Homo sapiens: one gene and its partners. The protein of the gene in region 3 interacts with the protein of the main gene of each other region in a biochemical or structural test. Each region holds a gene or a part of one and is shown on either strand. Other genes may lie near its edges. The genes, in order: NUP205, NUP155 and NUP35.

Region 1 (3,754 bases), on a different chromosome or scaffold from region 3:
AAAACAGGCCGGGCGTGGTGACTCATGCCTGTAATCCAGCACTTTGGGAGGCCGAGGTGGGCAGATCACAAGGTCAGGAGTTCAAGACCAGCATGGCCAACATGGTGAAACCCTGTCTCTACTAAACACACACAAAAAAATTAGCTGGGCATGGTGGCTAACACCTGTAATCCCAGTTACTTGGGAGGCCGGGGCAGGAGAATTGCTTGAACCCAGGAGGCAGAGGTTGCAGTCACCTGAGATCATGCCATTGCACTCCAGCCTGGGTGACAGGGCAAGACTCCGTCTCAAAAAAAAAAAAAAAAAAATAGCTGGGCATGGTGGCTTGTGCCTATAGTCTCAGCTACTCATGAGGCTGAAGTGGGAGGATCACCTGAGTCTCAGAGGGTAGAGGCTGTAGTATGCCATGACTGAGCCACTGCACTCCAGCGTGGGCAACAGAGTGAAACCTCGTCTCAAAGAAGAAAAAGAAAAAAAAAACACCAAAGGTAGCCGCAACAAAGAGTTATCTTCAATCTGTCTTGAGTTTGACCAATTTCAGTAAACACCTTTTTTTTGTTTGTTTTTTGTGACAGGGTCTTGCTGTCACCCAGGCTGGAGTGCAGTGAGGCAATCACAGCTCATTACAGCCTCAAACTCCTGGGCTCAAGCAACCTCCTGCCTCAGCTTCTCTAGTAGCTAGGATTACAGGCGCACGCGCACCACCAGACCTGGCTAATTTTTGTATTTTTTGTAGAACTGGGATGTTGCTATGTTGCCCAGGCTTGCCTTGAACTCCTGGCCTCAAGTGATCCTCCCTCCTCAGCCTCCTAAAGTGCTAGGATTACAGTAAATATCTTTTTTACTGATTACAAATGAAGGGACACTATAAATTTTTCAAAATTACTAAATATGTATTTTTACCATGTAGTTTAGTCAGTTGAGAAATACATTTATTTTCCTTAATGTTTAGGGATACCTCCAGCAAATCACATTTACTCACTCATTCACCATGTGTGAGGTATTGGTAAGATTATACTGCAGTGAGGAAAAACATTAATCATAATCATACATAAATGTAAAATCTGGCCGGGCACAGTGGCTCACGCCTGTAATCCCACCACTTTGAGAGGCCAAGGCGGGCCACATCACGAGGTCAGGAGATCAAGACCGTCCTGGCCAACACAGCGAAACCCCGTCTCTACCAAAAATACAAAAAATTAGCCAGGCGTGATGGCATGCGCCTGTAGTCCCAGCTGCTAGGGAGGCTGAGGCAGGAGAATCGCTTGAACCCAGGAGGCGGAGGCTGCAGTGAGCCGAGATCACGCCACTGCACTCCAGCCTGGGCTACAGAGTAAGACTCCATCTCAAAAAATAAAAAAATAAATAAAAATAAAATAAAATCCAACTGTGGTCAGGATATGAAGGATATGAAGGAGAGGTAGCCAGGGCAAGAGATCACATAATAGGGGACTCTGACCTAGCCAGAGGAAAGAATTATCCATGAGGAAGTGATAACTAGGCTGAAATCTGAAGAACAAAAGTGATAGTTAACTGACAGGTGGGAGGTGAAGACATGCATTCCAGGGAGAGGACAACCTGTGGGTTTCCATGGCAAGAGGGAATGCGGCATGTCAAAGAACTCAAAAGGCCAAGAGAGCTGCAGTACAGAAAACGGGTTTGGCAAGATCATCACACAGGGCTCACTTGCCCACGTTAAAGAATTTTGATGACCGAGTGTGGTGGCTCAGGCCTGTAATCCCAGCACTTTGGGATACCGAGGCGGGCAGATACGAGGTCAGGAGATCAAGACCATCCTGGCCAACACGGTGAAACCCTGCTCTACTAAAAATACAAAAATTAGCTGGGTGTGGTGGCGCACGCCTGTAGTCCCAGCTACTCAGGAGGCTGAGGCAAGAGAATCGCTTGAACTTGGGAGGCAGAGGTTTCAGTGAGCCAAGATCGCGCCACTGCACTCCAGCCTGGCAACAGAGCCAGACTCTGTCTCAAAAAAAAAAAAAAAAAAAAAGGATTTTGGTCTTTACTCTAAAAGATCAAGCCAAATGAAGATTTAAAACATGGGGACTTTCTGCTCATGCCTATAACCCCAGCACTTTGGGAGGCCGAGGCAGGTGAATCGTTTGAGGTCAGAAATTCGAGGCACCCCTGGCCAACGTGGTGAAACCCCATCTCTACTAAAATTACAAAAATTAGCCAGGTGTGGTGGTGGGCGCCTGTAATCCCAGCTACTTAGGGAGGCTAAGGCAGGAGAATCTCTTGAACCTGGGAGGCAGAGGTTGTAGTGAGCTGAGATCACACCACCGCACTCCAGTCTGGGCGACAGAATGAGCCCCTGTCTCAAAATAAAAAATAATTTTTTAAAAAGGAACTTTCTGAACTACAAGAAACAGAAGTTAACCCTATTGAGAGCTGTTTACAAGGATGGAAGAGACCAGAATGGGTGAAGGAATAGGAGGTATGAAAAGGGAGTCAGTAGGCTGGGCATAGCAGTTCAGGCCTGTAATCCCAGCTACTAGGCTGAGGCAGGAGAATCATTTAAACTTGGGAGGTGGAGACTGCAGTGAGCCGAGACTGCACCACTGCACTCCAGCCTGGGCAGAGTGAGGGAGGGAGGGAAGGAAGGAAGGAAGGAAGGAGGGAAGGAAGGAAGGAACAAAGGAAGGAAGGAGATGGAGTCCATGAATACTAACAAATCTTTTGAAAGGCTTGACTAGGAAGAGGACAGTAAGTGGAGTGACGCATGAGATCATCAGTGGAGAGAAAGGGAAGAGCAAGAGAGAGAAGTGAATATACAAGACAAAAAAAGGGGTAACAGGTGAAGAACACAATGGGTGGGATTTACATTAGATAGGAAGACAGAGGAAAAGTGATTCAAAAGAATGCAGACACACCTAGGTTTGTAGGTTTGAGAGTGAATAAAGGGAGTTCATGTATGTTGGCTCCTATTTTCTCTGTGACTAGAAGTCTGAGGGTTTAGTTAGTTGCAGGTTAAAGATTTGAAGAGTGTAGAAAGGTCTGAAGTAGTCACTGCTGTGAATGGACGAGGTGACCAGACTATCACAGAAGGACTGCCAAGCAGTGTTAATAGTTGCTTATTCACAAGTCTGTGAGTGTACTCAGCCAGGTTGATACAGGTCACAAGACTAGTTAAGTTATACAGCTGAAATACAAGCATAGGTTTTTTTGTTTGTTTTTTGTTTGTTTGTTTTTAAGACAGAGTCTCGCTCTGTTGCCTAGGCTGGAGTGCAGTGGTATGATCTCGGCTCACTGCAACCTCCTCCTCCTGGGTTCAAGCAATTCTCCTGCCTCAGCCTCCCGAGTAGCTGGGATTACAGACACCTGCCATCATGCCAGGCTAATTTTTGTATTTTTGTAGAGACAGGGTTTCACCATGTTGGCCAGGCTGGTCTCGAACTCCTGACTTCAGGTGATCTGCCCACTTCAGCCTCCCAAAGTGCTGGGATTACAGGCATAAGCCACCACACCTGGCCAACCATAGGTCTTAGAACTCTACAATCTCTGTATTTTTTCCTTACAACTCCAAGATGTTTGATTTTTTAAAACTGTAATTTAAAGGAAGCACATAACATAGAATGCAATCTCAACAAATTTTAAGTGTACAGTTCAGCAGTGTTCAGTGTATTCACATTGTGCAACAGATCTTCACAGCTTTTTTCATCTTGCAAAACAGAAACTCTATGCCCCCTAAACAACTCCCCACTTTCCCCTTTCCCAGCCCCTGGCAACCACCATT
Region 2 (3,624 bases), on a different chromosome or scaffold from region 3:
CAAAACTTTTTTTAGGTGTTGGGTTCACCCTTGAAAGAACTGTCCTCTAACAACTGGTTTTGTCAGTTAAAGCCCTTGAGAATTGACATAGCTATATACCTGGTTGAGCAGGTGATAAAACTTGTAACTAATGTTGTGTCCTGAAAACCTACACAGGGAGGTACTGTTTTCCCTTAGTGTCTACCTGGCTGCTTGGCCTTGTGACTACTGATTCCATTAGAGCAGTGGTTCTCAAAGTATGTGCTCCAAACCAGAAGCATCAGCATCAGCATCAGCATCACCTAGGAATTTGTTAGAAATGCAAATTCTCGAGCCCCAACCCAGACCTACTGAATCAAAAACGTGGGGGATGAGGCCCTGCTTTCTATGTTTTAACAAGCTCTCCAGGAGATTTTGGTGCATGTCAAATTTGAAAGCCACTGCAGTAAAGGATACTGCTACCTTCCATAGTTTATGGACTGAGCTACCTATCTGGCTCCTCCTCTGTGAATAACCACACACACAAATTTTGCCCAAGGCACACAATATATAAAGCAAAACTGTTAGTAATGTACTTTTTAATTATTCCTTAACAAAATAGAATAACCAAACCAAATGCTTCAAAGTAATAGCAACAAGAGAGAAGAAGAGTGGGAATGACCAGAGCTAACAAAACACTCTATTCCTTTCTCTCTTTTTTTTTTTTTTGGAGACAGAATCTCACCCTGTAGCCCAGCCTGGAGTGCAGTGGTGCGATCCCGGCTCACTGCAACCTCTGCCTCACAGGTTTGAAGCAATTTGCCTGCCTCAGCCTCTCGAGTAGCTGGGATTGCAGGTGTGCGCCACCATACCCAGCTAATTTTTGTATTTTTAGTAGAGATGGGTTTCACCATGTTGGCCAGGCTGGTCTTGAACTCCTGACCTCAAGTGATCTGCCCGCCTCCACCTCCCAAAGTGTTGAGATTACAGACGTGAGCCAATGTGCCTGGCCTATTCCCTTCTCTCTTTATGCTACCACAAATAATTACCTTCTGTTTATTGTAAGTGATGCATGTCTAACAATTTGTACAATACATTTTGAATATATTTTTCCTTCCATTATTGTCTTTTCCCAAGACCATAGGGTTGCCTTCTCTACATTTGTTCTCTTAGAATTCAGCTCCCTTTTCCCTATAATCTTCTAATGTAGAATATTTAATAGAATGCCAGAACGTCACTCAGTGGGTACTACTACCTCTTATTTTTCAACTTTTCAGTTTCTTAAGTTTAGCGTTTTTTGAATATGTAAAGTGAATGTATGCGATACATTAATTCGTTTTATAAATTTAAAATTCTGTCATGTCTACTTAAAAGGAAGGCCTTGTCTGAATGTTGTAATTTAGGTGTGACTCCAGTTCTGCTAGAGATAAGAACTTCATTTTTGTTTTAAGCACATTTACATACTAGCAATATGTTGTTATATATACTCAGCTCACAACATTGAAAGTACATGTTTTAAAAGGGCTGTAGGCTTCCATGGTTAGATGGTCTGTTAGAGTCAGAAATCTGAACACTGTCCTTTTATTCACACAGCATGCTTTGAGAGGTTTTAGGAATTCCAGCCCCACAACAGATGCTTGCAATACCTTTTGGGGGGTAAGATTCCTAAGAGAGAAGAAATTAGGTCCCCTCATTTTTACCCTTGGAACAGTGTTTCTAAAACTTTCACATTCAGAACAATCAGCCGGATAGCCTGTTATGACAGATTCTTGAGTTCCATCTGTAGTGTCATGCTGATCCTGGCAGTCAGTGGATCAGAGTTGGAGTAGCATTTATCCACTGTATTAGTATACTTTGTACTTGGTGTTTGTTCAACGCATTACTTTTTTGAATTTTTTTGTTTTTTGAAGACAAGGGCTTGCCCTGGAGTGCAGTGGCATGATCTTGGCTCACTGCAGCCTCGAGCTCCTGGGCTCAACTCAGTCTTCCCACCTCATCCTCTTAAATAGCTGGGACTACAGGCACGTGCTGCTACACCCTGCTATTGTCTGTTTGTTTGTTTGAGACTGAGTTTTGCTCTTGTTGCCCAGGCTGGAGTGCAATGGCACAATCTTGGCTCACCACAGCCTTTTTTATGAGACTGAGTTTTGCTCTTGTTGCCCAGGCTGGAGTGCAATGGCACGATCTTGGCTCACCACAACCTCCACTTCCTGGGTTCAAGCAATTCTTCTGCCTCAGCCTCCCGAGTAGCTGAGATTACAGGCATGCGCCACCATGCCTGGCTAATTTTTTTTTTTTGTATTTTTAGTAGAGATGGGGTTTCACCGTGTTGGTCAGGCTGGTCTTGAACTCCTGACCTCAGGTGATCCACCCCCCTTGGCCTCCCAAAGAGCTGGGATTACAGGCATGAGCCACTGCGCCTAGCCCCACCCCCCCTACTTTTTTTTTTTTTTTTTTTTTAATTTTTTGTGTAGCCAAAAGATCTCACTCTGTTGCCCAGACTGCTCTCAAAACTCCTGGCCTTAAGTGATTCCCCTGCCTCAGTCTCCCAAAGTGCTGGGATTATAGGCATGAGCCACCATGCCTGTCCATTATTTCTTTATAGTGACTATTATATGTAGGCAATGTATAATTGGTAGAACATAGTCTATGAAACAGTGCGTTAATTGTGGGCAGTGAAGAATCATTGAAGTTGTGAAATTTGTATTTTAACTAGATCATTGTAGTATGGCAAAACGGTTAGGAAAGAGAAAGCTATCTTGACTAACTGTTTATGCTATGAGATACTGACTGATGTACATGTACATTTAGTGTTTCTTTAGGTATACCTGACTTATTCATTGAACACCTATCCACTGATCTCAAAAGTATTCCTCAGGGTAGTCTCCATTCCTGTCATTTTTCCTCCTATTCATGAGACGGAAAAATTATGACCATGGTACAGAGTTGTATCAAGGAAATGAAGAACTAGAACATTGAATTGAAAGGTTTTGAAAGGGTTCACAATTTCTTTTCATTTTCTATTAATGTCTTCTTTTAAATTCTCTTAAGAATAAAACTTTTTTCTAATATTTTAAGTCTTCCATTAAATCATTGAAACTCTTCTGAGCTTCGTTTTCCTCATATATAAATGAGATTGAAGCCAAATAATAAAACTTTAAAAATCAATCAAGGGCCAGGTGCAGTGTCTTACACCTGTAATCCCAGAACTTTGGGAGGCCAAGGCAGGTAGATCACCTGAGGTCAGGAGTTTGAGACCAGCCTGACCAACATGGTGAAACCCCGTCTCTACCAAAAATACAAAAAAGTTAGCCGGGTGTGGTGGTGGGTGCCTGTAGTCCCAGCTACTTGGGAGGCTGAGGCATGAGAATCACTTGAACCTTGGAGACAGAGGTGCAGTGAGCTGAAATCCCACACCACTGCACTCCAGCCTGGGCGACAGAGGAAGACTTGGTCTCAAAAACAAAACAAAATCAATTTACCATGTGGGATCCGGGATCCCCATGTATGTTTTCAACCCACATTAGAAATGACCCCCTAAAGCACCTCTGTCAAAACAACCAAACCTGAACTCATCCCTCTCTGCCCTCTGCCCACTCTTGCTGTTCTTCCTTGTTTTCTACCTCTTTATTGTCTCAAATAGAAAATATGAAAATCATTACATTG
Region 3 (3,754 bases):
GGTGCAAGGATCACCTGAATCCGGCAAGACCTCATCTCTACAAAAAAAAATACAATTAGCCAGGCATAGCAGCACGTGCCTATATCCCAATAGGACAGTTGAGGCAGGAGGATTGGTTGAACCCAGGAGTTCAAGGCTGCAGAGTTATGACTGTGCCGCTGCACTCTAGCCTGGGCAACTGATCAGGACCCTGTTGGGGACCCTAAAAAAAGAAGAAAATAAAGACAAGTCCATACTACTTCTCAGCTGACGAGTGCCCTAGATCTAGATGAAACTCTAAATTTTCATTTGTTCTTTCACATAATTTTTAAATATTAAATATTAAACTTCTTAAACAATCAGAATGATTTAAACCATAGTCACATTCTACATGTATATTAAGTAGGTTGGAGCTATGGGCAGGTGGATAAGGCATACCTATAAACACCTGAGAATTACCTATGAGAGAAAATCTAGAGTTCTACACTGTTAAGTACAGTTCATCATCAACACAATTTAAGTAGATTCTATGATGTGTTTAATGTTTATTCTGTGCAACACAGTTACATTAAAACAGACTTCAGGGAAACATTTCAAAGTATTGACTCTCACTGAACAGACACATAAAACCATGATGTTGTTCATTGGGGATCAAAAGGGTATTTATATTACCTGTCTTCTTGAAGTTAAAGGTGTTGATCCAAGTCCTGGGCTAGAAATGTCATCATATATACTTCTAACTGGTGGAGCGCCACTTTTATCTTTATGAGCTGGTACAACTGGTTGTGGTGGTGACCCACCTACAGTGTACAAAAAAAAAAAAAAAAAAAGGGATTCTTCTTTTTGGTAAGATTTTTTAAATTTATATTTTTGAAATACTGACTTAAAATCTTGTCTGTTAGTTCTTTTCAAACTTTAATATGCTGAACAGTCACCTGGGGACCTTGTTAAAATTCAGACTCTGATTCAGAAGGTGTAGGGTGAAGCCTGAGATTATACAGTTCTAATAAGCTCCCAGGTAATGCCAATGCTGCTGATCCATAGACTGCACTCTGAATAAAAGGATTCAGAGTAAGTAGTTAATGAAAATCTTAGTTTTCAGAAAACACATGTAACTTTTGCTCACTCTACAAAACGCTTAACATTTAAATACAAAACTTGATCCCATTTCTCACTTGAAAGTAGGTACTAAACAGCTCCAGTCTGTAGATTCCTGAATAAATACAATTCCCTATGTAGAGTTTGACTATCTAGATTAAGTAGATCCCATTCATGTTTCTCACAGTAGAAATATATTTAAGTACATAATAAAGATGTAGTAAAAGGACCAAGTTCTGTGACATAAAGATGTCTTTATCGATCAGAGAACATGCAATGTCAAATAGTGATGCAGCCCAGGCCATCGGTAAGACTAATGTCTGAGCCTGGACTGTACAGCTTAAGCTATTTAGAGCACAGTCTATGGAATAAGACTAACCTGAGGTTTATAGCGCTCGCTCACTTACTAGCAAGTGAGCTTCAGCAAATTACTTATTGCATTTAGCCTCAGTTTTCTCTTTTTAAAGATGGGGATACTATTACCTACCCTTTAAGATTGACAAAATAATGATTAGCATACTGCCAGGCTCATAAGCAATCAATATACGTTGGCTACCATAATAAAATAACACATTTGAAATTTAATGTTTAATGTTAAATGAATTACTTCAAATATAATTTATAATTCTCCCTGATAAATCCTAAATAATAAACCATTTTAAAGCAAAAATACTTTAAAGGGCAATTAAGGTAAAAAGAGTTTTCACTTGAACTACTACTAAAGGATATTAGCTCACAATTAGAATTCAACACTTCTGTATCTAATTCTCACTACTCAGTTAAAACTTCGAAGTCATTTTTTAAAGTATTTCTTTGCTAAAGGAGTTCTGTAATAAACACAGGCTGCATTTACAATACTTTGCCCTGACAATCACAAATTCTGTGTATAAAACCTCCCCCCCAAGTTTCCTTAAACACGCTATATGTGAGAATCTCAATTCACTAAGACTAAAGGCAGAATTCGTATCTACATCTTCAAGTTACACTTCTTTTGACCGATTATTTCCTATTCTTGTATCTTAAGATGAATTACTTTAAATGAATTCAGTTGAAGCTAAATGATGGTATTTCATCAACTCTGTGAGGCACTCTTCCCCCACCACACTCTGACATCTCCGACACAGAAATTTTACAAAAAATGGCATCTTAGCATTGTGTCATATTTAGGGTTATCTTTCCTAGTGGTACTTAAAAGCCAATTCAAAGGCATCTTAGAATGAAAAAAACATAGAATACATTTTAGTGGCTCTAGAAATTATAGCTTATACTTCTTACACCTCTATTCCAAGAGCCTTAAAAGCTTTGCTTTATAATAGACACATTGCTTAATTTTTTTTAATTAATGTATTGATGAGGGTGAATGCTGCACCACTACACTTTTAAAAATTCTAGCACAAGCTTGTCCCACCCATGGCTTGAACACCGCATGAAGCCCAGGATGGCTTTGAATGTTGCCCAACACAAATTGGTAAACTTTCTTAAAACATTTTAAGATTTTTTTTGCATTTTTTTTTTTTTTTAGCTCATCAGCTATTATTAGAGTTACTGTATTTTATGTGTGGCCCAAGTCAATTCTTCTTCCAATGTGGTTCAGGGAAGCCAAAAAATTGGACATCCCTGTATCTAGCATGTCTATAAAATTATTTTAAGCAATTCACCTACCTGCAAGTAAAGGTGATCTCATTTCCATTACTCCTACTGAAGGGCCACTAATTGATCGAGGTTGTGGAGTCACCGGAGCTGGCAAATCCCCCATTAAAAATCCAGGTAAGAACTGGGCATTAACTCCTGGCTTTGGAGATGTGGGTGAACCCAGCATCATTGGTTCAGATCCTACATGAATCAAAAAATAAATTAAGGACTTTTCTGTTACAGTTTCTGTTACATGTTGATGACAAAAACATGCAAGAATCTAACATAATTTTGCAAATTTAATCAAAACTTTTAGATATAATAGAACCATAGTTGAATTTATTATTTTAAAAGCCAACAAAAAATATTTCTAGAAAAATGTAAAGTTATCTTGTATTCACTTTTTTTTTTTTTCTGAGTCCGAGTCTCACTCTGTCACCAGGCTGGAGTGCAGTGGCGCAATCTCAGCTCACTGCAACCTTCACCTCCTAGGCTCAAGCGATCCTCCCTCCTCAGCCTCTCAGTAGCTAAGTCTACAGGCCTGCACCACCACGCCCAGCTAATTTTTGTATTTTTTTGCAGAAATGGGGTTTCACCATGCTGCCCAGACTGCTCTGGAGCTCCTGAGCTCAGGTGATCCACCAGCCTTGGCCTCCCAAAGTGCTGAGATTAAAGGTGTGAAGCCAGTACACCTGGCAGCACAATATTTATCTGTGACAGCTATTTTTGTTTACATTATTTCAGGGGTTTAAAAATCACACTAATAACTTCTTTCCATTTCCGAATCAGTTTGGACTATGTAACAACCAAAAACAAGGACAGGCTGCACTACTTATACATACAAAGCTTAGCATATCAAACACAATGGGTTAAGCTTGCTAAATTGTTTCTTTTTCTTCCCCATAAAAAGTTCATCATTATTGTGATAAAACCGTAACCATGCATATATTAGAGCACTTACAAAATAACAGTGATAACTAGCACCCTAACTCAGAAACATGTTGAAAAGAGTCGAAAACTTATTTTTGTATCTTTTTTCTTAATC

Evidence for each region.
Region 1: the proteins of NUP35 (region 3) and NUP205 form a complex in vitro, tested with the Homo sapiens proteins (one study listed by BioGRID).
Region 2: the proteins of NUP35 (region 3) and NUP155 form a complex in vitro, tested with the Homo sapiens proteins (one study listed by BioGRID).

What each region holds. Positions count from the first base shown.
Region 1 is NC_000007.14:135,560,800-135,564,553, reverse strand, and holds part of NUP205 (nuclear pore complex protein Nup205), read right to left. Parts: intron 1-3,754. UniProt on the Homo sapiens protein: Plays a role in the nuclear pore complex (NPC) assembly and/or maintenance. May anchor NUP62 and other nucleoporins, but not NUP153 and TPR, to the NPC.
Region 2 is NC_000005.10:37,287,542-37,291,165, reverse strand, and holds the end of NUP155 (nuclear pore complex protein Nup155), read left to right. Parts: 3' UTR 1-3,029; downstream 3,030-3,624.
Region 3 is NC_000002.12:183,127,443-183,131,196, reverse strand, and holds part of NUP35 (nucleoporin NUP35), read right to left. Parts: intron 2,911-3,754; coding exon 2,740-2,910; intron 780-2,739; coding exon 652-779; intron 203-651; exon of another isoform or gene 80-202; intron 1-79. UniProt on the Homo sapiens protein: Functions as a component of the nuclear pore complex (NPC).